Linked DNA regions of Homo sapiens: all the other regions are linked to region 1. Evidence: fine-mapped expression QTL. A gene starts in region 1. Each other region holds a variant in brackets. All regions are shown on one strand. Distances are between the middles of the regions.

Region 1 (8,043 bases):
CCCAATTCAGGAAGGAGCTAAAGCCAAGGTGGACAGCCAGAGAGGGGACTGAAGCAGGGAATGAAGGCGTGGACTGCTCCTTCCATCTGGAAATTTCCAATCCCAAAGTTCGACCACTGTTCGCCTACAGCTGGAAGTGGCGTAAGCCACGGGGCACACAGGCCAGAACCGAGGCGATGGCGCTGGAGCTGGTGCTGCAAAGAGCTCGCTGGAAGGCAGGGGCCTGGGCACCGCTTCCTGGGCTGGACAAACACCATCTCATTCCATTCTCACCATCGTCCCCGGAGGCCCAGGCAGGAGGGAACAGACTCACAGGGGTGGGGGAACCTGCCCGAGGTAACAACACCTGCCTGAGGTCAGGACAACCCCTGCTCATCTTAGTGTCCCCCATGAGGGGAAACAGGGCCCTAGTAGGTGCTCACTGAGGAGCTGCTGAACAAGGACCCAGAAGAAGCAGAAATGGCGAGACCCTGGGAGTGGGACAGAAGGTAAGGAGGGGAACATGAATGAATGAATGAATAACATCAATGAATAAATGAATATTTATTTTTTTTGAGACAGTCTTGCTCTGTCGCCCAGGCTGGAGTGCACTGGCACGATCTCAGCTCACTGCAACCTCTGCCTCCTGGGTCCAAGCGATTCTCCTGCCTCAGCCTCCTGAGTAGCTGGGATTACAGGTGTGCATCACCGCGCTCAGCTAATTTTTTTGGCATTTTTAATAGAGACGGGGTTTTGCCATGTTGGCCAGGTTGGTCTTGAACTCTGGGCCTCAAGTAATCCACCCACCTTGGCCTCCCAAAGGGCTGGGATTACAGGCGTGAGCCACCACACCCAGCCATGAATGAACACTTCTGATGGCAGACTTGGAAGGTCTCAAGTACTGCTCAAAACATTGAAAATGCATTCTGGAGTCAGCTGACTAATCCATCTTAAATTTACTGGCAACCCAACTGTGGTTATTAAACAAAACAAAACAAAACCTTGGCGTCCCTACAGCCAGCTTCCTCTCCTGGGGGAATCCTTCAAGAGATGGGAATCAAACCCCACACGGAAGAGAAATGTGAAGGGCGAGTTCTGTGCAGAGAATGAGGAACGGGTCCCCGTGTCTGGCTGTGCCCGTGTTGACTTGCACACATTGGCATCAAGAGTCTTCATCTGGGTCACAGAAGGCCGACCCCCAAGCGGGAGAGGCCACCAGACATGCCACAGTCCCTGACACCTGGTTCTTGAGGGGTCACACCGCAGGCACGGCACCCGGACCCCAGCCAAGGGCCCCGGGGATCGCCCTGCCCTGCCTCGGCCTGCAGAACGGGAGTGCAGAGATCACCCTGGCATGACCCCACCAGTGTGTGCCCCCAACACCCAGTCCCCTCCCTCGTCCTGGAGCAGTGCGATTCTGCCAGCACGCCACCCGGACCCCAGCATACCCCTTTCTCAGATCCCTTCACCCAGGCCTCTGGTCGCCCTCCACCTCCTCAAAGCTTCTGCACTGGGTCAGCCCCTCACAAGGGTTTTCCGGTCCACTCACTTCAGAATCTGCACCTCTGCTTTCAGGGGCCAGCAGGGTCCCCTGATCCCCACGCCTCCTCGTTCCTCACACTCTGGCTTCCCTGTCTCCTCACACTTCCAGCTTCAGGGACTCCACACACTGGGCACCGCCACAAGCAGGAGATGCCCTCTCAGAGATGCCCATCTTGACATCTTGACCTCCCTGGGACCCCATCCTGACCCCCTCAGAACCCCAACATGAGACCCCTAGGACCCCCTGCTCTGCCCTCCCAGAACCCCCACAACATGACCCCCCGAGGACCCCCTAACCTGACCCCCCCAGAATCCCCCAACATGACCCCCGAGGACCCAACCTGACCCCCCCCACAACATGAACCCCCTGGAACCCCTGTCCTGATCCCACTAGACCTCCCCCAGCAGAAACCCCTCCATCTGGAACCCGCTAGAACTCCCATCCTGACCCCGCTAAAGCCCCCCCATGTCCTGACACCCCTAAGACACCCCCTTGTCCTCAGATACCCCAGAACTCCCACCCTGACCCCCCCAAAGTCCCCCGATCCTGACCTTTCTAGGGTCTCCCACCCCATCGTGACCCCCTAGGACACCCCTCTCCCACATCCTGACCCTTCTGGGAGCCCCCTGTCCTCCCCTCTCTTCCCTTTTCCCTGGTTGTCTATGGACCTCCTCACCCCATCCTCTCCCCTAAGGGACCCCCCTGCCCCACCTTGGCACCCTAGGTGCCCTCTTCATCCCATGCCAACCTCATTACTCAGGGACTCATTCCCCAAAAGGACCGCTCCCCGCCCCCCCAAGACCTCTCAGCCTGTCCTCCCCACCCAGGTGCTGCACTCTCAACCTGTGGCTCAGGCACCCTCCCACCCCATCTCTCCCCCATAGGAACCCTCCCACCCCATCTCTCCCCCATAGGGACCCTCCCACCCCATCTCTCCCCCATAGGGACCCTCCCACCCCATCTCTCCCCCATAGGGACCCTCCCACCCCATCTCTCCCCCACAGGGACCCCCTCACCCCATCTCTCCCCCATAGGGACCCCCTCACCCCATCTCTCCCCCATAGGGACCCTCCCACCCCATCTCTCCCCCATAGGGACCCCCTCACCCCATCTCTCCCCCATAGGAACCCTCCCACCCCATCTTTCCCCCATAGGGACCCCCTCACCCCATCTCTCCCCCAAGGGACTCGCTTCACTATCATTTCAATATGCAGAACACCCCTTGCCTATCCTTCCCCCACAGGCCCCCACCGACACATCCTCTCCTCCCAGGGACCCCCTCAACCCCATCTCACAATTCAGGGGCCCTGCACCCCATCTTCTCTCTGCAAGGACATCTCCTTGGCCTGATCTCACGACTTAGGGATTCCAAACCCCATCTTTTCCCCAAAGGGATCTCCCCTCACTCCAATCTCATTACTCAGGGACCCCACCATCTCCCCGATTTCACTATTCAGGGACCGTTCACCCCATTTCACTACTCAGAGACCTACCACCATTCTGCTACTCAGTGACTCCATGCCCTGTCTTTTCCCACAGGGACCTCCCTTGGCCCTATCTCATTATTGAGGGACCCTTACCCCGTCTTTTCCTACCAGGGACCCTACCCCATCTCAGTCTCATTACTCAGGGACCCCTCACCCCATCCTCTCCCCTCTGGAGCCCCCTTGCCCAGATTTCCTCCTCAGGGGCTGCCTGACCTCCCCACACCCCATCCTCTCCTCTCAGGAATGCCCTGCACCCCGATTTCCCTACTCAGGGTCTCCCCTCACCCTCATCTCATGACTACGGCAACCTTTACTCCGTCCTTTCCTCTTAGGAACTCTTCACCCTCATTTCACTACTCAAGGACCCCACACTGTGTTCTCTCCTCTTAGAGATACCCCTCACCCCGATCTCACTGCTTGGGGAGCCTCATCCTGTTCTCTCCTTGGGGACACCCCTCATTCCGATTTTCCTACTGAGGGACTCCCCTCACCCCAGCTTCACTTTTCAGAAGCCCCACACCCCATCTTCTGCACTGCAGGGACCTCCCCTCACTCAACCTCGCTGCTCAGGGACCCCTGTCCCCATCCTCTCCTCTTAGAGACATCCTTCACCCCAACTTCACTACTCAGAGACTCCCGTTATCCCAATTCCACTCTTCAGGAACCCCACACCCCATCTTTTCCACCACAAGGACCTCCCCTCGCCCAATCTCACTGCTCAAAGACCCCCCTGCCCCGTGCACCCTTCGCCCCGTCCTCCGAGGGCCCCCTGCCCCGTCCTCCCCCGAGGGCCCCCTGCCCCGTCCTCCCCCGAGGGTCCCCTGCCCTGTCCTCCCCTCGAGAACCCCCTGCCCCGTGCACCACTCACCCCGTCCTCCCCCGTGACCCCCCTGCCTCGTGCACTCCTCGCGAACCCCCGTCCCCTCGCCCCGTCCTTCCCCGAGGGCTCCCTGCCCCGTGCACCCCAAGCCTCCGGCTGACCCCTGCCCACTCACTCGGAGGCGCCCTCGCTGGTAGGGGATGGGCCCTCGGCGATGGTAGGGTTGATGGTGAGCGCCGGCAGCACCGGCTTCCTCCGGGCCAGCATCGGGGCTCCGCGGGCCGGCGGCGGCGGCGCCTCTAGCCGGGGCCCATAGGGGGCGGGCCGGGAGCGGTCGGCGCCTACGCGAGCCCGGGGCTGCGGCCGCGGCCCAGGCCGGCGTCGGGGCGGCCGAGGGCGGGCGGCGCTGCGGGCCTGGGCCGAGGGTAGCCGAGGGGCGCTGGGGCTGAGGCGAGCGAGCCGCTACCGCTGCCGAGGCCCGAAGAAGGCTGACGCCGCAGCCCGAGTCCGAGAGGCAGGGGGAGGGGAGGGGCGGCCACAAGATCGCGGACCGGCTTCTCGCGATAACGGGATCGGGAGCCGCGATGGACCCCACCCCCAGCCGCCGCGCCTGCGCAGCAGCACAAGGCCGCCTTTCGGAGGGGAAAGGGGCGGAGACCGACGCGAGGCGGTGCCGGGACCGGGCGCCCTCGCTTGCCTTACCACGGCGCGTGTGCCCAAGCGCTTGGGGCATGAGGCGCGGGAGCAGGGGAGGAGACGGAGGGATGAAGGCTGGGGTGATGGTCGTGCACAGGTGGGCAGGGTAGCCAGACTCCTGAGAGCCTGTGGTGCCCCAGGCTGGGGCTGAGAGAACCCGTAAGACCCCAGAACAGTGGACGAGACCCACCCAGAGTCCATTTAATCTTTTTGGCAAGCGTGGACACACGCCCCTAGCCCCCACCGCCTTAGAGTGTCAGTTACTCCCCCTCCTTCATCAGAACAAGGCCACTCTAAAACATTTTTAAAATTTATTTTAATTGACAAATAAAATTGCATATATTACTATGCGCATGTTGAAACATTTTTATTATAAAATACACATAACATAAAACTTGTCATTTTAACCATTTCTAAATGCACAGCTCAGCGGCATTAAGCAACCACCACCACCACCATCTCCAGAATTTTCTCATCTTCCGAAACTGAAACACTGTCCCCTATGAAACCTCACTCCCTATCCCCCTCCCCAGCCCCTGGAACCCAACGTCGTACTTCCTGTGAATCTGATGATTCTAGGGACTTCATATGAGTAGGATCACACAGGTTTTGTCCCTTTGTGGCTGGCATATTTCACTGAGGGCCACGTCCTCAAGGTGCCTGTTGTAGCTGTGTTAGATCCACGTTGTAACCTGTGTTAGAATTTACCCACTTGACTACTCCGGGCATACTTCCAATCGGGTAGCCCTGCTCCAAAAAAGAGCAGAAAAAAAAAAAAAAAGAAAAATTTCCCTTTTTTTTTTTTTGAGACGGAGTCTCGCTCTGTCACCCAGGCTGGAGTGCAGTGGTGCGATCTCGGCCCACTGCAAACTCTGCCTCCCGGGTTCACGCCATTCTCCTGCCTCAGCCTCCCGAGTAGCTGGGACTACAGGTGCCCACCACCATGCCCGGCTAATTTTTTTGTATTTTTAGTAGAGACGGGGTTTCACCGTGTTAGCCAGGATGGTCTCCATCTCCTGACCTCGTGATCCACCCGCCTCGATCTCCCAAAGTGCTGGGATTACAGGCGTGAGCCACCGCACCCAGTCAGGATTTTCCTCCTTTTTAAGGCTGAATAATATTCTATTGTGTGCATGGACTATATTTTGCTTATCCATTTATCTGCCACTAGACACTTCGGTGAATCGTGCCGCTATGAACACAGATGTACAAATATCTGTTTGAGTCCTTGCCTTGAGTTCTTTTGGGTATATGTTCTGAAGAGGAATTACTGGATTATATGGTAATTCTATGTTGAACTTTTTGAAGCACCACCTTACTATTTAATACAATAGCCGTACCACTTTATAAGAAAGGTCATAGGCTGGGCGCGGTGGCTCACGCCTGTAATCCCAGCACTTTGGGAGGTCGAGGCGGGTGGATCACCTGAGGTCAGGAGTTGAAGACGAGTCTGGCCAACATGGTGAAACCCCGTCTCTACTAAAACAAAAAAATACAAAAATTAGCCGGGCATGGTGGCGCGTGCCTGTAATCCCAGCTACTCGCGAGGTTGAGGCAGAAGAATTGCTTGAACCCGGGAGGCAGAGGTTGCAGTGAGCCAAGATCACGCCATTGCACTCCAGCTTGGGAGACAAGAGCGAGACTTCGTCTCAAAAAAATCAAACAAACAAACAAACAAACAAATAAATAAATAAAATACAAAAATTAGCCAGGCCTGGCGGTGTGTGCCTATAGTCTCAGCTACTCAGGCGGCTGAGGCAGGAGAATCGCTTGAACCCGGGGGGCAGACGTTGCAGTGAGCCAAGATTGCACCACTGCCCTCCAGCCTGGGCGACAAAGTAAGACTCCGTCTCCAATAAAACAGAACAAAAAAAAATTTAATTTTTTGCCAGGTGCCGTGGCTCACACCTGTAATCCCAGGACCCTGGGAAGCTGAGGTGGGCTGATCACTTGAGGTCAGGAGTTCGAGACCAACCTGGCCAACATGGTGAAACCTCGTCTCTACTAAAAATACAAAAATTACACAGGTGTGGTGGCGGGTGGCTGTAATTCCAGCTACTAGGGAGGCTGAGGTGGGATAACTGAACCCCGGAGGCGGAGGTTGCAGTGAGCCGAGATTGTGCCATCGCATTCCAGCCTGGGCGACAGAGCCAGACTCACGCTCAAAAAACAAAACCAACCAACTGGCCGGGCGCGGTGGCTCACGCCTGTAATCCCAGCACTTTGGGAAGCCAAGGCAGGTGGATCATGAGGTCAAGAGATTGAGACTATCCTGGCCAACATGGTGAAACCCCGTCTCTACTAAAAATACAAAAATTAACTGGGTGTGGTGATGCGTGCCTGTAGTCCCAGCTACTCGGGAGGCTGAGGCAGGAGAATCGCTTAAACCCGGGAGGTGGAGGTTGCAGTGAGCCGAGATCACGCCATTGCACTCCAGCCTGGGCGACCGACCGAGACTCCATCTCGAAAAAAACAAAACAAAACAAAACAACAAACAAAACACTGCTCCTGGGGAAGCCTGCTCCTGGGTTTTTACAATCTGGGCCTTTCAGTTTTACTTCTCATCGCTCCCACCCGCTTGTCCAAAATTCAGATGGATGCATATGTGGCCTCAAATAAGGACAGGCCCTTTCAGAGACAGGGCTATTTCCATGTTCCTTCTGTTTTGCCTAGCAATCTTTCTCCCATTTTATCCTATTTTAGGCTTTTTTTTTCTTTTTAAGACAAGTTCTGACTCTGTCACCCAGGCCTCAGGCTGGAGTGCAGTGGCACGATCATAACTCTCTGCAGCCTCCACCTCCCTGGCTCAAGCGATTCTCCCACCTCAGCCTCCCTAGTAGCCCTGGCTACAAACATACGCCACCACACTCGGCTAATTTTTGTATTTTTTGTCCAGACAGGGTTTCTCCATGTCACTCAGGCTGGTCTCACACTCCTAGGCTCAAGCGATCCTCCTGCCTCGTCCTCAGCAGTGCTGGGACTAGAGCCGTGAGCCACTGCACTCACCTATTAATGCACAAGTTTCTGAAGTTCAATTTCTTGGATTATTACAACTCTATACATCCATGTAACACTTCCCCTTACTCCAGAAAGTCTGTTCACTGCCTTTTTAGTTCATTCTCTTCCTCTGCACCCAGCAGTAGTGAGCTGGTAAATGTTTAACAATGAGCCATTAAAATAAGGAGAGGCCGGGTGTGGTGGCTCACACCTGCAATCCCAGCACTTTGGGAGGCCAAAGCAGGTGATCACTTGAGGTCAGGAGTTCGAGTCCAGCCTGGCCAACATGGTGAAACCCCATCTCTACTAAATATACAAAAATTAGGCTGGTCACGGGTGTAATCACAGCACTTTGGCAAGCCGAGGTGGGCAGATCACCTGAGGTCAAGAGTTCAAGACCAGCCTGACCAACATGGTGAAACCCCGTCTCTACTAAAAACACACAAAAATTAGCCGGGCATGGTGGTGGGCACCTGTAATCCCAGCTACTCGGGAGGCTGAGGCAGGAGAACTGCTTGAAC
Region 2 (8,043 bases), 34 kb before region 1:
CTCCATCTCAAAAAAAAAAAAAAAAAGAGAGAAAAACCTAAATATTTCATATTGATTCCAAGGTGAAACGGGAATATTTTGGCTCTGCTGGGTGAAATATACTATCAAATCATCTGTTCTTTTCCTCTATTTTGTTTATTAATATTTATTTATTTATTTATTTATTGAGATGGAGTCTGTCTCCCTCTGTTGCCAGGCTGGAATGCAGGGGCGCGGGGTGGAACAGGTAACTCCTGCGCCCCTGCCTCAGCCTCCCAAGTAGTTGGGATTACAGGTGCCCACAACCATGCCCAGCTAATTTTTGTATTTTTTGTAGAGATGGGCTTTCATCATGTTGGCCAGGCTGGTCTTGAACTCTTAACCTCAGGTGATCACCCACCTTGGCCTCCCAAAGTGCTGGGATTACAGGCATGAGCCCCTGCACCAGAACGGTATTTATTTTTTTTGAGACAGAGTCTCGCTCTGTCACCCAGGCTGGAGGGCAGTGGCATGATATTGGCTCACTGCAGCCTCCGTCTCCTGGGTTTAAGTGAACAGGCCGGCTAATTTTTGTTTGTTTGTTTGTTTTGAGACAGAGTGTTGCTCTGTCGCCCAAGCTGGAGGGCAGTGGCACGATCTTGGCTCACTGCAGCCTTCCTCTCCTGGGTTTAAGTGAACACGCTGGCTAATTTATGTTTGCTTGAGATGGAGTCTCGCTCTGTTGCCCAGGCTGGAGTGCAGTGGCATGATCTCAGCTCACTGCAAGCTCCACCTCCCAGGTTCAAGGGATTCTCCTGCCTCAGCCTCCCTAGTAGCTGGGATTACAGGCGCCCGCCACCATGCCTGGCTAATTTTTGTATTTTTAGTAGAGATGGGATTTCACCATGTTGCCCAGGCTGGTCTCGAACTCCTGACCTCAAGTGATCCTCCCGCCTTGGCCTCCCAATGTGCTGGGATTATAGGCGTGGGCCACTGTGCCCAGCCCTTTCTATTTAAAATGTTTTAACAGGGAAATCCTGCTAAAACTGGGAAATGTACATTTCGTCTGGGGTGCAATGTGCACATTGGGTTGGGGTGGCAGGGATGGGGACAGGACGGGGACGCTATGGCGTGGTGCCCCGCGTGGAATCTCACCCTCTGGGCGGCTGGTTGCTTCTCCGGCCTCATTTCATTTGATGACCTTTCCACTTGCCCCACCCCGAGGCGGTTGTTGCAGGAGGAGAAGGAAGTATGTGCCTGTCCCAGGGCCGGCCTGGGTCCCACCTGGGGAGAATTCCACAGGATGAAGCGAGCAGGCAGTCGCCTGTGACCCCAGCTTCATAAATCAAATATGTTAGCAAATCCTGCCCGGCACACAGCCTGGGGCACTTGCATGGAGCCAGTGACTTTTTGGTGTGTCCGGGGACAGACTGCACTATGGAGAGGGATGTCAGGGCTGCCCATGCTCTCCGGAGGCAGAAGCCAGCACATATGAGCAAGTCAAGCGCTGTTTATTTACGATGAAAATACCAAGCTGGGGGGTGGGCGTGGTGGCTCACGCCTGTAACCTCAGCACTTTGGGAGGCCGAGGCGGGTGGACGGCTTGAGGTCAGGAGTTTGAGACCAGCCTGGGCAACATGGTGAAACCCTGTCTCTACTAAAACACAAAAATTAGCTGGGTGTGGTGGGCACCTGTAGTCCCAGCTACTCGGGAGGCTGACACACAAGAATCAGTTGAACCGGGAGGTGAAGGTTGCAGTGAGCTGAGATTATGCCACTGCACTCCAGGCTGGGCGACAGAGCAATACTCTGTCTGGAAAAAAAAATACCGAGCTGGGAAAACAGCCGACAAAACACTGTAGGAGTCTTCTTGGGGCCACAGGTGGTGTGCCCCAGGTCCACGTGGGCCTCAGACATGGGGGCAGGGCTATCATGTTGTCGAGAAGTTTTTTTTTTTTTTTTTGAGACAGAGTCTTGCTCTGTCGCCCAGGCTGGAGTGCAGTGGCGCGATCTCGGCTCACTGCAACCTCCGCCTCCCGGGTTCAAGCGATTCTCCTGCCTCAGCATCCTGAGTAGCTGGGACCACAGGCGTGCTACCATGCCTGGCTAATTTTTGTATTTTTAGTAGAGACAGGGTTTCACCATGTTGGCCAGGCTGGTCTCGAACTTCTGACCTCGTGATCCGCCCCTCTTGGCCTCCCAAAGTGCTGGGATTACAGGCATAAGCCACCGCTTCCGGCCTATCTGGAGGTTTTTAATAACCACAGAAAACCTCAACACGTCTGTGTAAAACCTTCCAATGTCAAGGAGTGAGCTGCCCCAGGGCCCCCCAAGGCCTGGCTTTCAGTGACACTCCCTTCACCCTAAAGCCCCGCAAACGTTATTTATTATTTATTTTTTATTATTTTTTTGAGACGGAGTCTCGCTGTCTCGCCCAGCCTGGAGTGCACTGACACAGTCTCAGCTCACTGTAAGCTCCGCCTCCCAGGTTCACGCCATTCTCCTGCCTCACCCTCCCCAGTAGCTGGGACTACTGGCATCCACCACCAAGCTCGACTAACTTTTTTTTGTATTTTTAGTAGAGACAGGGTTTCGCCGTGTTGGCCGGGCTGGTCTTGAACTCCTGACCTCAGGTGATCTGCCCACCTTGGTCTCAAAGTCCTGGGATTATAGGCGTGAGCCACCCAGCCCATGCCCTGCAAATTTTAAAATGCTGCATGTTTTACAGGAAAGGGTCTGGCCCCGGGAGGCAGGGAAATCCTACCCCCTGGACTGCAGCATGTCCGTGGCCAGGGCAAAAAGGGGCATCCCCAGGTGTGTAGCCACCTTTGGGAGCACCCGGGATCCCTTCCCAGGCCTCCACAGTGGAGAAAATGAGGCAACGAGTCCAAAGGACAGCAGGCAGGAGGGGGATCTCGGATGAGGCGGCGGCTGGGTCTGGGAGGTTTCTTGGGGGAGCAGGAGTTGAGAGATCTAGAAACCGCCAGGGTGGACGCACTCTTGCCACATCTACAAAGTAGTTTCTAGAAGTCTGACCCTGAAGCGAGGCAGGGAAGATAGGCAAGACCACGGCTTCTCTCCCGTCCTTCCCTCTGGGGTGCCGTGGGGCTCCAATGAAGCTGCAGGATGGCTGCGCACACCGCAGGGATCCTGGCGCGGGGTCCATCCCCACCTAGCCCAGACTGCCCCTGCTCCCCTGGGACTCCGTGTCCTTTCATTCCTTGCCAATGGCAGGGGGTGGCCGGGACCCTGGGGTTTCCAGGACCGGCCGAGGTCCCGCCGGTTTGGAGCACAGGCAGCCAACACATTCCCCCCGGCCCTCCCGGCAATCCTGAGGGTCCTGGTTACCCACAGGGCGGCACCTTCAACACTTTTTTTTTTCTCCTATTTTTTATTTTTTGGGGCCACACTCCGTCGCCCAGGCTGGAGTGTGATGGTGAGATCTTGGCTCACTGCAACCTCCACCTCCCCAGGCTCAGGTGATTCTCCTGCCTCAGCCTCCTGAGTAGCTGGGACTACAGTTGTGCACTACCATGCCCGGCCAATTTTTTTTTTTTTTTTTTTTTTTTTTTGTAGAGATAGGGTTTTACTATGTTGCTCGGGCTGGTCTTGAACTCCTGGGCTCAAGTGATCTTCTTGCCTCGGACTCCCGAAGTGTTTAGATTACAGGTGTAAGCCACCAAGCCTGGCTTTTTTTTTTTTTTTTTTAAGTCATGTGAGACTTTAGGGCAAAACATAAAGGAGAGCAGCCTGGGGAGCTGTTTGCAGGAGGTGTCAACTCATCTCTTCTTTGGTGTCTGCAGAAAAAAAAAAAAAAAAAAAGCCACACAAGACTAGAAGGGTCACCCTAAGAAGAAAAGGACAATCCAGCAGTTCCCACAGAACCACAAGCCCCCACCTTCTGCTTTGTTTCCTCCAGAAACACAGTTGCCAGCCACCCTTCCCCTACAATTCGCCCGCAGATAATATCAGCTTGCTGGTAGTCTCCAGGAAGTACTGAAGGGGGAGGCTCACAGCCTCAAGAGCTTTAGAGAGCTCAGAGGGACCCTAGAACAGCCCAGCTGCCCACCACACCTAGCCCAGAGGTGGCCTCCTCTATCCGAGCACACAGTCCCGAAGGTAGAAAGGCTGGGCTTTGGATCTCGGACAACCGGAGAAGCAGGCGATGGGCCTCCGGGAACCCCGAAGACCCCAGGACAAGCCCTCACCGTTTCATCTGCAGCCCACTGCGGCGGAACAGTTCAAAGGCCCGAAAGTGTCACATGCCCTGGTGGTCACTTCTGATTTGTTGGGCGAGGAGAGGTGACAGAACCACCCGCCCTGGGCTGGGCCTGCTGCGGACGCAGGGGGAGTGCAGGGCGTGTCTCGGGACCTGCTGGGGTTTCCAACCAAACCGACAGCTTGGAAAGCCAGCGCTTCCTTTCTGTGGGGCTGAGTCTCAGCTCAGCTGCCACTGCTGGGAGCCCCCACTCCCTGAAGCGGGGGGACAGGGAGAGGATGGTGCCACGCTGGGGAAGAGGCAGGGGCGGCCTTCCCGCGGAGGCTACGTGACAGGAGCAGTGTAGAGGAAGTGGTTTCCATCACGGAAGGCCGAAGCTCTGCCTTCCACAGGGGCAGAGATGGTGGCGGGGAGGACACAGAGGGAAACCAGGTGGCATTTCCCTTCTTTTTTTTCAGTAGCCTTGCTCTGTCACCCATGCCGGAGCGCACTGGCACCATCGAGGTTCACTGCAGCCTCAATCCCCTGGGTTCAAGCGATCCTCCCGCCTTAGGCTCCCAAAGCACTGGAATGACAGGCATGAGCCGCCGCCCCCAGCCTCACTCTCCTTCCTTTTGGTGAGAGCCGCCATCGCCTGGGGGCTCACTGCAGGTCTTCATCCCTTGACCCAAAGGGAGAGGCGAGCTCTCCCTAAGGGAGGGCCCTGCGCCCTCCAGCCTCGGCGCCCGGCGATGCGGGTCAGCTCAGGGATGTCCTCTCCGTGCTGGGCTGAAGCAAAGCCCAGCACCCAACGCCGAACGGAAGAAAGAAGCAGGATGGCGCGGTTTGCTTTTTCTCTCCCTGTTTTGTTTTGTAACCTAAGGAAGCAGAGCCTCTGAGACCACACACAGCAGCGTCGCCCGTCCCCAGAGGCACCCCGGCCAGGAC[G/T]GGCAGGAGAGGAGACCCCCGTTCCTGCATGCGCTGTCGCCCCGCCACGGTGCTCTCCGCAGGGGTGAGGCAGGAGGGTGGGTGGAGGCGCCAGCCTGTCCTCAGCTGGAAGGGCGGGGCATGGACAGGGACGGTGGGCAGGTCACCAGCGGGACGCAGGGAGCCCGGCCACTGTCACACGGCGGTGCGCGTGGGTGTGCCGGGCTGGTTCAGCCGCAGGGTTTTACACAACCAGCCGGCAAAATCCACTTCTTCCACCTCGGACCGCTTGATGAAGGTGTGGTTCTGCAAGGAAAGGGGAGCCGTGAGCACCCGGGCCTGGAGTCACAGTAGGACGGGGAGGGCCAGCGTCTGCCCAGCCCTGGCAGATGGTACGGGACAGAAAGCAAAAAACAGAGGAGACCCTCCCTTCCCCACAGGAAGACGCACTCGGGGTAGGAGAGGGAAAGAAACCCAGAAAGGGGCAGCGGCGTGTGCCAGGCCTGGGAGGGGTCTCAGGATGCTGCACTCCACCTGGGGCGGGGACACCACCAGCACGGCAGCCTGCGCTCCCAGGGGAGGGTCTACGCTCGCGCAAGCCCAGGGTCCTCCGGCCGCTGTGGACACCGGGGCCGGATCATTCTCTGGCGTGGGGCCATCCTGGGTACTGCAGGGTACTGAGCAGCGTCCCTGGCCTCCACCCACTCCATGCCAGGGGCTTCCCCAAGTCGTGACACCACAATGTCCTCAGCCATTGCCAGGGTCCCCCGGAGCAGGACAGCCCAGGCAAGAACGGGCTGTTCCACAGAACTCCGCGAAGAGCATTGTACAGGCACCGTCCCACTCGCCAGCACATGAGGCTCCAGAGCCCCTGGACTGTGGCTCCCATGGCTTGAGAACAAAAGCCTCAATTTTATTTCAGTTTAACAAATTAATTAAATACTTTTACTTTAATTTTTTTTTTTTTTAGATGGAGTTTCACTCTTGTTGCCCAGGCTGGAGTGCAGTGGTGTGATCTTAGCTCACTGCAACCTCCGCCTCCCGGGTTCAAGCGATTCTCCTGCCTCACCCTCCCCAGTAGCTGGGATTACAGGCATGTGCCACCACACCCAGCTAATTTTTGTATTTTTAGTAGAGACGGGGATTCACCATGTTGGCCAGGTTGGTCTCGAACTCCTGAACTCAAATGATCCTCCTGCCTCAGCTTCCCGAAGTGCTGGGATTATAGGTGTGAGCCACCGCAACTGGCCTTAATTTTTATTTTTTGAGACAGTCTTGCTCTGTCGCACAGGCTGGAGTGCAGTGGTATGATCTCAGCTCACTGTAACCTCTGCCTCCCAGGTTCAAGCAATTCTCCCGCCTCAGCCTCCCAAGTAGCTGGGATTACAGGTGCGTGCTACCATGCCCAGCTAATTTTTGTATTTTTAGTTGAGACCGGGTTTTTCCATGTTGCCCAGGCTGGTCTCGAAATCCTGTCCTCAAATGATCCGCTCACCTCGGCCTCCCAAAGTACCGGGATTACAGGTGTGAGCCACTGTGCCCGGCCCCACTGAACACACTTCAACAGCCACGTGTGACCAGCGGTTCCTGTACAGGACAGCACAACATGAGAAGCCTCTTGGTTGGAAGGGCTGGGGGAGGAGGGCGGGTGCCCTTGGGGAAGAGGCTGTGCTGGGCCACCCCACAGTGGGTGAGTAGAGGCCTTTGGGGTTCCCAGGAGGGTGGTGTCCAGGACCTTGGGCCCCTGAATGCTGCCTCTTTTGCAGCTGGAGGCAGGCCAAGGTGCCTATCTTCCTAAAAGTCGGTGTAGGTATGGGTGAAAAACCAACCAACTTGATAGGACACATCTTGGCTAGGTCCAGGATACCCAACAGGGGAGCATTTTTAAGAAGCTGGTTCAAAAATGGCTATTTCAGCCAGGCCCAGTGGCTCATGCTTATAATCTCAGCACTCTGGGAGACCTAGGTGGGTGGATCACAAGTTCGAGACTGGCCTGGTCAACATGGTGAAACCCCATCTCTACTAAAAACACAAAAATTAGCCGGGTGTGGTGGCACGAGCCTGTAATCCCAGCTACTCGAGAGGCTGAGGCAGGAGAACCGCTTGAACCTGGAAGATGGAGTTTGCAGTGAGCCGAGATTGCGCCACTGCACTCCAGCCTGGGCAACAGAGCAAGACTCCGTCTGAGGGAAAAAAAAAGTTATTTCAACATTAGTACCCCTCTCTTTTTAGTTATTTATTTATTTTGGAGAGGCACAGTCTCACCATGTTGCCCAGGCTGGCCTTGAACTCCTGGCCTCAGAGAGCCATCCCCCTATGGCACTAGGATTCCAAGTGCCCACCACAATGCCCAGCCTGCCTCATTAAAAAAGAAAAAAAGTCACACATGCCAGGTGCAGTGGCTCACACCTGTAATCCCAGCCCTCTGGGAGGCCAAGGTGGGAGAATCATTTGAGCCCAGGAGTTTGAGACCAGCCTGGACAATTAGCAAGACCCTGTCTCTATAAAAAAAACTAGCTGGGCAGGTCGGGCACGGTGGCTCACGCCTGTAATCCCAGCACTTTGCGAGGCTGAGGCAGGCAGATCACCTGAGGTCAGGAGTTCGAGACCAGCCTGGCCAACACGGGGAAACCCCATCTCTACTAAAAATACAAAAATTAGCTGGGCGTGGTGGCAGCCACCTGTAATCCCAGCTACTTAGGAGGCTGAGGAGGCTAAGACAGGAGAATTCCCTGAACCTGGGAGGCGGAGGTTGCAGTGAGCCGAGATCGTACCACTGCACTCCAACCTGGGTGACAAGAGTGAGACTTCATCTTTGCGGGGAAAAACAAAACCCACACACAAAAACTAGCTGGGCTTGGTGGCACACATCGGTAGCCCCAGCTGCTCAGGAGGCTGAGTGGGAGGATCACTTGAGCACGGGAGTTGGGGCTACAGTGAGCTACAATCGCACCACTGCA
Region 3 (8,043 bases), 54 kb before region 1:
GCGCGCGGCCCCCGCCCGGCCCGCGGTCCCCCGCCGCCTCGCCCGCGCGGGGGGCTCCTACCTCCTTCCCGGGGCAGCGGCGAGGGGGCCCGGCCCCGGCGGCGGCGGTGGCGGCGGCTGCGGCTGGGCTGGCTCCCTCCGAGGGGCCGGGAGGCGGCAGTGAGCCTGGCCCCGCGCCACCCCCCGCCGCCGGCGGCCAATCCCCACCCGGGCTGGGGGGAGGGCGATGCAAATTACCCCGGATCTGGGTCCGCCCGCCCGCCTCCCCCACGCCCGGGCCCGGCCTGCGCTAGGCCGCGCATCCCCGGGCTCGCCTGCACCGCGCGGCCGCCCGGGCCGCCGCCCTCCCCGGGGAGCGCGGGGAGGGTGACCCCCCCCCCACGGGCGGGGGGCCGAGGGGAGGGGGGCTGGGGACGGTTACACAACCAGGCGGGGAGGGGCCCCGGGGCGGGGAGGGGGCCGGCCCGCGGGCCGCGCAGCCGGAAGCCGGGACCGCCACCGGCCCCCGGCGAGGGGAGCCCGGCTCCAGGCCCCGCCCCCTGGCGGGCTGGCCCCGCCCCCGCGCCGCGCCGCGCGATCGGCCCGCGCCCATTGGCTCTCCGGCCCGCCGCTCACCGCCCCTCCTCCGCACCGCCCCTACCCGCAGGCCGCGGCGGGCTGTCGGCGCGGGGCACCCTGGGACTTGTAGTCCAAGCCGCTTGCCACCTGCCGGCTGCAAACGGCGGAGGGACTACGAAGCCCAGAGGTCCCTGCGGCCCTGCCCGCCCACCCGGACACCCCACCCCTTCCCCCTCCTTTCCGAAGCCCCCCTCCCTGTTTTTTCAGCCCCCTCCCCCCCATCCCCCATGGAGCTCAATCCTGGCCAACTCCAACGTATGCACGCAGCACCGAATAGGCCCCCGGGGGGCGAGAGCGCCCCTCGTCTTCAGCTGGAAACTTAGCAGGCGACGCGCCCCCCTATCTCCCCACGCCGGCTCCCCCCACCCTCAATGCAGCCCTGCTTCCCCTCCCCCGCTCCCCGCGCGCCTGGGAGCCCCGAAAAGCCATGCACCCGGGTTGGGGGGGGCTGGCGCACAAGCTCATGCACTTAGCCCCCAATCCCCCCTTCCCGGGCGGCGCCCCCTCCCCGCGCTCGGGATCCAGGGCGCCTCCAGCCTCCGGGCAGCTGCCAACCACCCCTTCCTCTGAAACTTGGGGGAACGTCCCCGGCTCCCCGGATCTCCCCTTCCCGAGGGGGCAGCGGTGGCCGCAGCGACCCCCGCCCGTCCCCGCCCTGCACCCCGTGCCGGGGGCCGCGCCGGGCGCTGACTTACCTCGCGGGGCCGGGCCGGGGCGCGCGGGGCCGGGGCCCGAAGTTGGGACTGGGCTCCCTCGGCCGCTCGCCTCCGGGGTCCGCGGCGCTCGCTCTGCCCGCGTCGCGCTGCCCTGGTCGCTCCCTCGCGCGGCGGCGGCGGCGTCACTGCCCCTACAGTAACTGTACAGTACAGCCAAAGCCCCGTATGATGCTCGCGACTCCCTTCCTGGTTTCTCCGAGGGCAAGAGGGGTCCTCCCTTGTCTTAAAGGTGCCGCAGCCGCCGGCCCCCCCACGCCCAGCCCGCCCCCCCCAGCCTGGCCTCGGAGGCCAGAACAGGCTCGGCAGGTCCCCTCTTGCCACGTCTCTGCCCTCCCGTGGGGCTTCGCCCGCTGCGCCGGGGAGACCGGGCTGTTATTAGGTTTTGTCAAGTCGGGGGGGGGGGTCCGGCCCGCCCCGGCGCGCCCCCCCGCCTCTGACCTCTCCGCCCCGCCGCGCGGCGCCGTGCCAGCTTGCCAGCTTATCTGGCCCCAGAGCTCCCCGGGGCGCGGGGGGAGCGGGCCCCCCGGGGTGGAGGGGGGGTGGGGGCCTCCAGATAAACAGGCCCCCAGCCTCTGCGCAGGGGCGGGGTGCGGGGGGGCGCGGGCTGTGCCCCCGACGCCCGGGGCGTGGCAGGATGGCAGCGGGGGCGGGGAGCGCGGTGCGCACAGCGAGGAGCGACGCGGGCGTGTGGGTCGCGCGGCCTGGGCTGCCGGGGGTGGGTTGGGGGTGAGGCGGTGGGGATCCCCCCGCAAGGCCAGGCCCTGGGCCTCCCCGGGCCTCAGTGGGACTTGCCGCGCCAGGGACCCCGGGGGGTGGCCTTGCCAAGGACAGCCCGGGTCCGCGGGGCTCCCGGGTCCCTAAATGAAACCACCAACCTGCCCTCCCGCGATTATATAAAGGAGTCGCCTCCACCCCGCTGCGCTAGGGGCGTCAGCGGGGGAAGGGGTTGGCGAGGGGCGGGGAGGGCGGTTGTTTTCCCGGCTTCGCGAGTTCCCCCACCCGGCTGCGGGCCGCGGGGCGGGACGGGGACCGGGCCCTGGACGCCTGGTCCGCGCGGGCCGCTCCTTGGCACAAGGGGGTCTGCATGGCTCGCGAGGGGCGGAGGTGGGGAGTGGGGAGGCGTTGGTTCAGCGCGACTTTTTTTTTTCCCCTGTCCGTTTCTCCCACTTCCTCCCCGGTCGTGGGAGAGGTCCGGCGGGGGACAGGGAAGGGGGAGCAGGGCACGAGTGGTGAGAACGTCCTGGCCCGGCCCGGGGAGGGCTGGCTGGTGCGACCGCGCGCCTGGGGGGGGGGGGGAGGGCTCCAGGACTCAGTTTCCCCTTCCTCATTCCTCCAGACAGAGAGAGTACTGACAGCTGCTTTAGCTGCCGTTTAGTGAGCGCTTATCCAGTGGGTGACCCTGTTCCGGGGCTCACTGTGCCTTCATTCTAACACCTAATCCCAGGGTCATTATTATGTTTTATTATTATCTGGCATTCTTAGTACCAACACCACCTGACAGCGGGAACCACCACCGGCCTGGGTGTAGTGTACCCAGCCTGTCCTCTGACTTCAAAGCCTCTCCTGCGAGAGACACAGTTTATGGCTTCTTCGCACAATTTATTAAAAGCGCCTTTCAACACCCAAACGGGTTGGATTGGCTTTTGTAATAATAATCTGGCTACGAGGGGAAACCCGGGAGGGCCCCCCGGAGGGGAAGTGGACTGTCTCAGGACTCGCAGCCTGAAACCAGCCGGGTAGGTGGGAAGGGACCCAGGGAGGGGCCGCGTGGATCTAGGGCGAGGGTGTCATCCAGGGACTTTGCTCCAAGGACCCTGCCTGGGATAGAAATCCTTCTTCCTTCAACCACCGGCCATCAGCCTCGGGACCAGGAGGCCACGCTGAAGCACGATTCTTCCCAGATCCCACTGTTGTGTTTGGATTTCTGCAAATGATGCCCAGACGTTTTTTTTTGTTTTGTTTTTTTGTTTTTTGTTTTAGACAGACTTGCTCTGTCGCCCAGCCTGGAGTGCAATGGCACGATCTTGGCTTACTGCAATCTCCGCCTCCCGGGTTCAAGCGATTCCCCTGCCTCAGCCTCCTGAGTAGCTGGGATTACAGGCACCTGCCACCACGCCCGGCTAATTTTTTTTTTTTTTTTTGTATTTTTAGTAGATACAGAGTTTTGCCATGTTGGCAAGCCTGGTCTCAAACTCTTGACTTCAGGTGATCCAACCACCTTGGCCTCCCAAAGGGCTGGGATTACAGGCGTGAGCCACCGTGGCTGGCCTTGGTTTTTTTTGTTTGTTTGTTTTGTTTTTTGTTTTTTTAATAGAGATTTGGTGGGGCCGTGGGGGGGTCTTGCTATGTTTCCCAGGTCTCAAACTCCTGGGCTTCAGTGTTCCTCCCACCTGAGCCTCCCACAGTGCTGAGATGACA[G/A]GAATGAACCATCGTGCCAGCGAGACGCCCAGGCTCTAAGCTCTACATGGTCTAACTTCCCCCACACCAGGAGCAGCAGGTGACTCAGTTTCCCCTCTTGTACCACCAGCCTCAGATCCGATCCTGCAGGAAAAGGATCGAGAAAGCCCCACTCGGATTCTCCATGGTGAGAACCTGACTCAGAGGGGCAGGGGCTCCTCTGTGAGACGGGCATGGACCCTAATCCTCATCGCAGCCCTGAGAAGAAGCAGAGACTACAATTTCCACCATACAGTTGGGGAAACTGAGGCCCAGAGATGGACAAGGAGCAAGGATGTTAAGTCCAGCATTCGCGTGTCTCTGGACGCTGCCAGGGGGACCAAAGGGAGGTCCTTCAGGAAGTGCCAGGATGTGGCACACCCCAAACCACGCCCCCCGCCCCTGTCATGAAAACAGAACGAAGGGGACCCAAAGCTTCCTCCTGACCTCTGCCCTTCACTTCCTTTTTCCTCCCCCAACCAAAAAAAAAAAAAAAAAAAAAAAACCCGAGTTGATACTATTGAAAACCTAATAAAGTATAAAAGATTGGGTTGCTGTGTGATCTTGGGCAGGTTGCTTAACCTCTCTGATCCTCAGACTCCTTTGGAGAGAAGAATCGATGCAACTTCCTAGTGTTGTGACAAGGGAGAAATGAGACGGTGCATGGAACGCTGAGACAGCACAACCCCTGCACCAGGGAGGTCTTCATTACATGATAGGTGTGATTATATTATTAATGTTTGAGTCACGCCTATTATTTTTGTCTCTGTGTAGCCAGGGGTTTTCTGTTTGTCTGTTTGTTTGTTTGTTTATTTGTTTGTGAGACAGAGGTTCACTCTTATTGCCCAGGCTGGAGTGTAATGGCACGATCTCGGCTCACCACAACCTCTGCCTCTCAGGTTCAAGCGATTTTCCTGCCTCAACCTCCCAAGTAGCTGGGATTACAGGCATACGCCACCACATCCGGCTAATTTTTTTTTTTTTTTTTTTTGAGACAAGTCTCACACTATTGCCCAGGCTGGAGTGCAATGGCACGATCTCGGCTCACTGCAACCTCCGCCTCCCTGGTTCAAGCGATTCTCCTGCCTCAGCCTCCTGAGTAGCTGGGATTACAGCCGCGCACCACCATGCCCAGCTAATTTTGCGTTTTTATAGAGATGGGGTTTCACTATGTGGGCAAGGCTAGTCTCAAACTCCTGACCTCATGATCCGCCCGCCTCGGCCTCCCAAAGTGCTGGGATTACAGGCATAAGCCACCGTGCCCGGCCTCTAATTTTGTATTTTTAGTAGAGACGGGGTTTCTCCATGTTATTCAGGCTGGTCTTGAACTCCCGACCTCAGATGATCCGCCCACCTCGGCCTCCCAAAGTGCTGGGATTACAGGCGTGAGCCACCGGGCCCGGCCGTAGCCAGGGTTATTATCCTTGGTGGATAGATGTAGACAGGGGACCAGGGAGGAGGAGTAACTTAGCAAAGACACAAAGGGAGTGGCTGGGGGGACTTGAGTTTCAGTTACGTTGACTAGACTGTGCTGTGAAGTCATGTAATATTTTATTTTATTTTTATTTATTTATTTATTTTGATACGGAGTCTCCCTCTGTTGCCCAGGCTGGAGTGCAGTGCCGCGATCTCAGCTCACTGCAACCTTCACCTCCCGGGTTCAAGCAATTCTTGTGCCTCAGCCTCCCAAGTAGCTGGGACTACAGGTGCACGCCACCATGCACAGCTAATTTTTGTATTTTTACTGGAGATGGAGTTTCACCATATTGGCCAAGCTGGTCTCAAATCCCTGACCTTGTGATCCACCCACCTTGGCCTCCCAAATTGCTGGGATTACAGGCATGAGCCACCGCGCCTGGCCCCATCTCCATTTTTTAAAAATAAATGAATAATAATAATAATGAAATAGAATGTTTATTTTATTTTATTTTATTTTTTTGAGGTGGAGTCTCGCTCTGTCGCCCAGGCTGGAGTGCAGTGGCGCGATCTCGGCTCACTGCAAGCTCCGCCTCCAGGGTTCACGCCATTCTCCTGCCTCAGCCTCCCGTGTAGCTGGGACTACAGGCATCCGCCACCACGCCCGGCTAATTTTTTTTGTATTTTTAGTAGAGACGGGGTTTCACTGTGTTAGCCAGGATGGTCTCGATCTCCTGACCTCGTGATCCACCCACCTCGGCCTCCCAAAGTGCTGGGATTACAGGCGTGAGCCATCGCGCCCGGCCGAAATAGAATGTTTATAACAGCATAATTCACAACAGCCAAAAGGTGGAAACAATTCCAGTGTCCATTGCTATTATTCTTTTCTTTCTTTCTTTTTTTTTTTTTTTGAGACAGAGTCTCCTGTGTCACCCAGGCTGAAGTGCAGTGGCACAATCTCAGCTCACTGCAACCTCCATCTCCCAGGTTCAAGCGATTCTCCTGCCTCAGCCTCCCAAGTGGCTGGGATTACAGGCACCTGCCACCATGCCTGGCTAATTTTTGTATTTTTAGTACAGAAGAGGTTTCACCATGTTGGCCAGGCTGGTCTCAAACTCCTGACCTCAGGTGATCCACCCATCTCAGCTTCCCTAAGTGCTAGGACTACAGGCATGAGCCACTGCGCCCAGCTTCCATTATTAGATCAATGGATAAACACAGCATAGGACATCCACACAGCGGAATATGACTCAGCCATGAAGAGGAGCAAAGCTCTGATGCAGGCCACAGTGTGGATGCACCTTGAGGACATCATACTCAGTGAGAGAAGCAAGACACAAAAGTCCAAACTGTGTGATCCCATTTCTCTGAAATGTGCTGAACAGGCCAATCCATGGAGATACAAAGTGGATGCGTGGTTGTCAGAGGCTGGGGAGGGGAATGGGGGTGACTGCTATTGGACATGAGGTTTATTTTGGTGATGATGAGAATGTTCTGAAGTTATATAGAAGTAATGGTTCCATAACTCTTTCAATATTCTAGAAACAACTGTGCTTTTTATTTTTCATTTTTATTTTTATTTATTTTCTTTCTGACGGAGTCTCGCACTGTTGCCTGGGCTGGAGTGCAATGGCACGATCTTGGCTCACCGCAACCTCCGCCTCCCGGGTTCAAGCAATTCTCCTGCCTCAGCGTCCTGAGTAGCTGGGATTACGGGTGCCCGCCACAACGTCCCACTAATTTTTTGTATTTTTAGTAGAGACGAGATTTCACTATATTGGCCAGACTGGTCTCGAACTCTTGACCTTGGGAACCGCCCACCTCGGCTTCCCAAAGTGCTGGGATTACAGGCGTGAGCCACCGTGCCCGGCCTTGTGCTTTATTTATTTATTTATTTATTTAGAGACAGAGTATGACTCTGTCTCCCAGGCTGGAGTGCAGTGGCGCAATCTTGGCTCACTGCAACCTCTGCCTCCCAGGTTCAAGCAATTCTGCCTCAGCCTCCCAAGTAGCTGGGACTACAGGCACACACCATCATGCCCGGCTAATTTTTGTATTTTTAGTAGAGATGAGGTATTACCATGTTGGTCAGGCTGGTCTTGAACTTCTGACCTTGTGATCCATCCGCCTTGGCCTTCCAAAGTGCTAGGATTACAAGTGTGAGCTGCCGCGCCTGACCTATTATTTACTTATTTATTTAGAGACAGAGTTTTGATTTTGTCACCCAGGCTAGAGTACAATGGCGCGATCTTGGCTCACCGCAACCTCCACCTCCCGGGTTCAAGCCATTCTCCTGCCTCAACCTCCGAGTAGCTGGGATTACAGGCACCCACCACTACACCGGGCTCATTTTGTATTTTTAGTAGAGACGGGGTTTCTCCCTGTTGGTCAGGCTAGTCTCGAACTTCTGACCACAGATGTTCCACCTACCTCAGCCTCTCAAAGTGCTGGGATTACAGGCGTGAGCCACCGTGCCCGACCTAATTACTTTTCTTTTTATTTTGTAGATAGAGACAGAGTCTGGCTATGTTGCCTAGGCTGGTCTCAAACTCCTGGGCTCAAGTGATCCACCAGCCTTGGCCTCCCAATGTGCTGGGATTGTAGGCATGAGCCACCGTGCCCGGCCATGCCTTCCTGTCTCATTTATTCACTGGACAAAAATGGACCATGTGCTTTCCATGGGCCAAGTCCCTGCTCTCCAGCGTACAGGCTAGAGGAGGCTAAAGATAGTAAGAAAGAAGACAAATGAATACAAGGATTCCAGACATCATGAGTGCAATGAGAAAAGCAAGCCATAGGAATGGAAATACCAGGACCAGTCCTGGAGAATTGTTTTTTGTTTGTTTGTTTGTTTTTG
Region 4 (5,727 bases), 26 kb before region 1:
GGGCAGGACACCCCCCAGCGGGAGGGTGAGAGGGAAAGAGGGTGGGAAACCCCGCCTGGTGGGTCAGAAGCCTGGACGCAACCCCAGCTAACTGTCTAATAAAACCCCAGGCCCGGGGCAACATCGCCGGAGCGCACGCCAAGGGCCCGGGGCAACTCCGGCACCAGGAGTGCGGTGCCGTTCCACGGCGTCCCGAGCTCACACACATGGACCGGCCCTGTGGGCAGCGGGGTGTCCGCAGCTCCTTCCCCGTGGTCTGCGGCACATGCCTGTGAAGCCCACGCCACAGGTGCTGCTGGGTGCTTGGGGGCAGGAGAATGGAGTGGGGCTGGCGACCCTCCCAGAACCTGCGGGCGGATCCCGGGGAGCCCACAGTCAGCACACCAGGGGTCCGGGGACCAGACAGAGGCTTCTCCTGCTGCAGACAGTGAGCTGGGGACACCGTCATGTGCACAGGGCCTGCAATCCTGCTTCACCCCTGGGCTCACGGACAGGATGGCATGGCAGCCGGGAGCTGCAGCCCCACAGCTCTGGGAAAAGGAATCTGGCTTCCCGTTGGGCTGAGTCCTGCCTAACGCTGCACTGGGATTCTGGATGGGCAGGCTGGGCCACGGGCCCCACCCAGGACCCGGAAGGAGTGGCACATCTGGGTCCCGGCCAGGGGTGTGGGCAGCCCGGCTCCACCTACCATTTATTGACAAACTCCTGGAAGTCGGGGGTGAACACACCGTTGGGCAGCTTAGGAGGTGGCTGTGGAGGAGAACAGAGGGTGGGGTCAGCCCTGGGCATCGTCAGGGACCCTCGGCTGCAGCCCTCTCTACCCCTCACTGTCCTGTCCGGTCACCCACCCTGCAGGCCTGGCCGACACCACATGCCAACTGGGCTGCACCCTGTCAGAGGTGGCCTTCTCCCGAAAGCTCTCGTTTGAGAGTCACGGCTGCTTAGAGGGAAAGAGTGGGGTGCGTCCCCCTTTTATCAACAGGACAACCTCTCGAGTGTCGTCACTTGCTTCCTTCCCCAGTGTCACTGGCTGAAGGATGAGCTTTGGGACTGGGCCCCACAGAGGGACATCTGGATCCAAAGTTATTTTGTTTTGAGACAGTCTCGCTCTGTTGCCCAGGCTGGAGTGCAATGGCGTGATCTTGGCTCACTGCAGCCTCCACCTCCGGGGTTCAAGGGATTCTCCAGCCTCAGCCTCCTGAGTAGCTGGGATGACAGGTGCCCACCACTGCGCCTGGCTAATTTTTATATTTTTAGTAGAGACGGTATTTCACCAGGTTGGCCAGGCTGGTCTCGAACTCCTGACCTCAGGTGATCCACCCACTGTGGCCTCCCAAAGTGCTGGAATTACACACCTGAGCCACCGTGCCCGGCCAAACTGGGTCCACAGTTTTAAGCCCAAGCACTGGGGAGCCTGGCCTGACACACGTCCCCGGAGCGGGAGTGGCCGTGTAAGCGGTGCCAGCAGGGCAGGGGCAGGCCTTTCCCGCGCAGGGGCAGGGGCGGGAAGAGGCGGGGGAGAGGTCGGGGGATGTGCTCACTGGGCATGGGTGTGGCTGCTAGGTGCAGGGAGAGCTGGGTCACCAGGGCCACCCCACCTGGCTCCGTCATCATCTCGCCACCCAACCCCAGGCCTAGCCCAGTCTGCAGGCAGCTCAAATGCCCGTTTCTCTGCCCCAGCTCCAAAGGGCCACCAAAGACACAGAAACCCACAGAAGGCCCAGGGAGGTGGCCCGGCCTGGTCACGTGGCCAACAGGACCTTGGGGTGCAGTCCTGTGCCTCCCTGACAGCTGCAGGCCTGGAAGGAGGCCGCGTCCCTCCTTGTGCCTTGTTTTACTCATCTGGGCGGTGGAAACCCTCATACTGTGGCTCACTGGGTTGTTATGGGGACTGACGGAGCAGGAGCCACCCCGGGACCTACAGGTCCTTCTAGGCTCTCTGGGCCTCCTTCCAAGAGGCAAGGGCCATTCCTGTACCTTTCTCCGTGGAAGCGGGGTGATTTATGAGTCCACGCCCACGGGCGCCAGGACGCTCTGATGCAGAGACACTGGGCCACTGCTCAAGGGGCAGGCTGGCTCCTCGGCCTGAGCCCAGGGCTGCTGGCACACACCTCCCTCTGGACTCAGGGTGAGAGGCTGCGGTGGGAATTCTGGGTTCGTCTTCATAAAAAAACAATGCCCTTGGGAAGGAGCTGGGCTTGTGCAGCACAGTAGAAGATGGGAGACGCGACACACGTGGAATTGGTTCAAGAATTGCTTGAACCTGGGAGGCGGAGGTTGCAGTGAGCTGAGATCAAGCCACTGCACTACAAAGCTAGACAATGTCTCAAAAAAAAAAAAAAAAATTAGCTGGGTGTGGTGGTGCGCACCTGTAATCCCAGCTACTCGGGAGGCTGAGGCACGAGAATCACATGAGCTTGGAAAGTGGAGGTTTCAGTGAGCCGAGAAGGCACCACTGTACTCCAGCCTTGGTGACTCTTGCTCTGGTCAGAGAGAGACTCTGCCTAAAAAAAAAAAAAAAAAAAAAAAGAAAGAAGAAAGAAAAGGAAAAGAAAAGCCAAAAGGCATCAAGCACAAACCTCGTTCACAATATAGTCCAGGAGTTCAAAGATGGCCATGGCAGGCCGGCTATCCATCCCGTGACCTGCACAGGGAGAGAGATGGAGG[T/C]GAGATGGGCCGATGGCCACCTCACTTCTGCTGGGGGTTGGGCTCCCAGGGGGCTGATCACCACCAGGCGCCCTCCTCCACATGCCAGCCTAAATTGGAGGCGGGTGTGCAGAGGCACTGGACAAAGCTCCCCTGCCTGACTCTGGGTTCCATTCCCTGGGACAGCTACTCCTTGCCTGAGCCTCTAGTGAATTAAAAAAAAGGCAAAAGGAACAAGAACATTTTTTGAGAAGTCACACATTTGGCTCGGTGAGGCTTGCCGGACGTGCCAAAGTCATCACCCCTCCTCTCTGGAGGGCAGGGGGAGGGACGGTGCTGACCGCAGGCAAGGACAGCCGCGTGACCTTGCATGGAGCTGCTGGCGGTGATGGGGGCAGGCCCCAAGTGCCACTCAGGACGGGAGACTGGCTAGGGGTGGCTGACCCCTGTCTGAGAACCAGCTGGCCAGGCCTGGGCTTGGCAGCTGGACTTTCGCCTTCTGCCCGTCCTGAAATGGGCAGGTGGGCTGGGGCCCTGGGCTGGGGATGGTATACCACCTGAGAGTTGGGACTGGGAGAGGCTGAGGCTAGGCCTGAGGATAAGGACTTGGGGGCCTCTCCCTGGGATGAGATCAAGACATCCCAGCAGTCTGGCTGGAGAGGAGGAGGTGGGCTTGCCAGTGCTATGAAAATCTCCTTCTCACAGCCCCAATCCATCCGGGTAGGACCACAAAACGTGGCCTGTTCGTGTCATAAAATACTACTCAGCCTTTCAAAAGGACCCAGGCTCTGACACGCACCATGGCGTGGATGACCCTTGAGGACACTGCGCTCCAGGAGAGAAGCCACACACAAAACACAGAAGGCCACACAAGTGTGTGACCCCATTTCTGTGAAATGCCCAGGACAGGCCAGTCCAGAGGCAGGAAGGGGATGGAGAGTGACAGCTGATGGGGACAGGGTTTCCTCTTGGGGAGCTGAGAAGGTTCTGGAATTAGAGGTGATGGGGCGCAGCACTGTGACTGAAAACCACTGAACTGCTCACCTGAAATGAGTTGTGGGGTGTGTGCTTTGTAGTTCGGAAACATGGTTTTAAAACCAACCACAGTCCGCTACAGGGTCCTTTGGGGTCTGACGCCACCAACTCTCCCTGATGTCTGACTTTAAAAAAAATCACAGGACCCTCCTGTGATTCTGCACCAAGCAGGGTCCGCCCCCGGCTCTTCCCTCAGGCGGTGGAAGTGTCCGCTCGGCCCTCTCTGACTGGCGTCAGGGAGCTCCCGCTCCCGAGGTGCCCGCCCTAAGTGCCGGATTGTCCTCTGCGAGCCCAGCTGTCCCTGGGGCCTGAGCCCTCCCGCCCCCTCCCGGGCTGTGTCCCCTCCTGTGTGTGTTGGGGCCGGAGCCAACAGGCCACTGAGGGCCATGCCAAGTCCAATCTCCACTTCAGGACTCCCTGGAAGGCTTGGCCCGCAGCACAGGAGCGTGTCACCTGCAGAATGCAGGCTCTGTGGCGGCCAATTCCTTCCACTTTTCTGTGCGTTTGAATGCTTTCGGGATAAAATGTTGGAAAATCCAACTGCCCAGGGGCTTGGTGGCAAAGCTGCGCTCCCAGATCCCTCCAGCTGGCAACAACAGGTGCAGCTGCCCCGGACAGAACAGGTTTGGGGTGCTCACTGCTTCCAGCTCTGTCCCCGGAAACCCCAGGACCATGGGAGGACTGCTGACCACAGTCGGCACCATCCAGGGGGACAGGTGGTGCGCCAGGGGCAGAGGGGAGGCAGCTGCTGACCCTGGCACAGCAGGCCCCGCGCAGGGCACTGCGCGTCCAGACCGGAAGTTGCAGATTCAGGCCGTACCGCTGACGGGGCGCCCGGGGGGCCTCGGCCGAGGCGAGATGCTGTGAGGCTCTCCTTCTTCCCCGTCGACCACGGGCCGGCCAAAGATGGCCTCCAGCTCTTTGGCGTCGGGCGGGGGGATGGGGTACCTTCCGACGGCCAGCTCCACCAGGGACAGGCCCATGCTCCAGATGTCCGACTGCACCGAGTAATGTGTGCCCTGCAACCGCTCCGGCTGCAGCAGAGCCAGGGAGGAAAGAGCCCAGAGGGGCGAGGATGGCAGCTGGAACCCGGGAGGCTTGCCCCGTTACAGCCCCCGTCACCCTCTCCATGGCTAATGACCGCAGCAATGGATAGAGAGCTGTTACGCAATTCTACCTCCCGGCTCACCCACCCAGGGCCTCCCTGCGGCACTTGCTGAAGAGGCTTCCAGCCCGAGGCCTGGAGCTGGTGTTGACCGCAGCTCTTGAAGAGCCTGCAATGCTCAGCACTTTTGGGAATGGATGATGGGCCCCAGGAAGCAGGGGCCTCCTCCTCCACAGCTAACATCTCAGAGGCTGCTCCAAGGCTCAATTTGGCAGGTTGCTGAATCCCCAGTCGTTTCCTGAAAGACCCCAGATTCCAATTCCTTGGTCCAGAAATTAACTAAGGGCCGGGTGCAGTGGCCCATGCCTGTAATCCCAGCACTTTGGGAGGTTGAGGTGGAAGCCCAGGAGTTAAGACTAGGCTAGCCAATATGGCGAGACCCCATCTCTACTAAAAACATTTTTTTAAAAGTTAGCCAAGGCTGCCGGGCACGGTGGCTCACGCCTGTAATCCCAGCACTTTGGGAGGCCGAGGCGGGCGGATCACAAGGTCAGATTGAGACCATCCTGGCTGACATGGTGAAACCCTGTCTCTACTAAAAACACAAAAAATTAGCCGGGCGTGGTGGCGAGCGCCTGTAGTCCCAGCTACTCGGGAGGCTGAGGCAGGAGAATGGTGTGAATCCGGGAGGCGGAGCTTGCAGTGAGCGGAGATGGCGCCACTGCACTCCAGCCTGGGTGAGAGTGTGAGACTGTGTCTCAAAAAACAACAACAACAACAAAAACAAAAACCAAATTACCCAGCTGTGGTGGCACATGCCTGTAGCCCCAGCTGCTTGGAAGGCTGAGGCAGGAGAATTGCTCCCGGGTGGGAGGCGGAGGTTGCAATGAGCCAAGATTGTGCCATTGCACTCCAGCCTGGGTGACAGAGCAAGACTCTGT

The links.
Region 2: its variant is fine-mapped to the expression of MAP2K2 in whole blood (INTERVAL, PIP above 0.99).
Region 3: its variant is fine-mapped to the expression of MAP2K2 in whole blood (TOPMed, PIP above 0.99).
Region 4: its variant is fine-mapped to the expression of MAP2K2 in whole blood (TOPMed, PIP above 0.99).

What each region holds. Positions count from the first base shown.
Region 1 is chr19:4,119,780-4,127,822 of GRCh38, forward strand. It overlaps MAP2K2 (mitogen-activated protein kinase kinase 2), which reads right to left and starts at 4,343. Exons shown (of 11, transcript NM_030662.4): 1 at 4,005-4,343. The coding sequence starts at 4,096. RefSeq lists silencers at 3,936-4,185, 4,376-4,495.
Region 2 is chr19:4,085,320-4,093,362 of GRCh38, forward strand. MAP2K2 (mitogen-activated protein kinase kinase 2) reads right to left here. Exons shown (of 11, transcript NM_030662.4): 11 at 5,002-5,389. The coding sequence ends at 5,279. Among named protein-coding and RNA genes, the nearest start is that of ZBTB7A, 22 kb to the left of the region's middle. RefSeq lists enhancers at 3,967-4,136, 4,415-5,191, 4,547-4,626. The variant G/T (reference allele first, on the strand shown) is at 5,105.
Region 3 is chr19:4,065,369-4,073,411 of GRCh38, forward strand. ZBTB7A (zinc finger and BTB domain containing 7A) reads right to left here and starts at 1,531. Exons shown (of 3, transcript NM_015898.4): 1 at 1,314-1,531. RefSeq lists silencers at 1,312-1,511, 1,522-1,571, 1,612-1,671, 1,882-1,991, 2,052-2,381 and 3 more. The variant G/A (reference allele first, on the strand shown) is at 3,753.
Region 4 is chr19:4,094,700-4,100,426 of GRCh38, forward strand. It overlaps MAP2K2 (mitogen-activated protein kinase kinase 2), which reads right to left. Exons shown (of 11, transcript NM_030662.4): 7 at 4,502-4,715; 8 at 2,580-2,644; 9 at 689-750. Among named protein-coding and RNA genes, the nearest start is that of MAP2K2, 27 kb to the right of the region's middle. The variant T/C (reference allele first, on the strand shown) is at 2,668.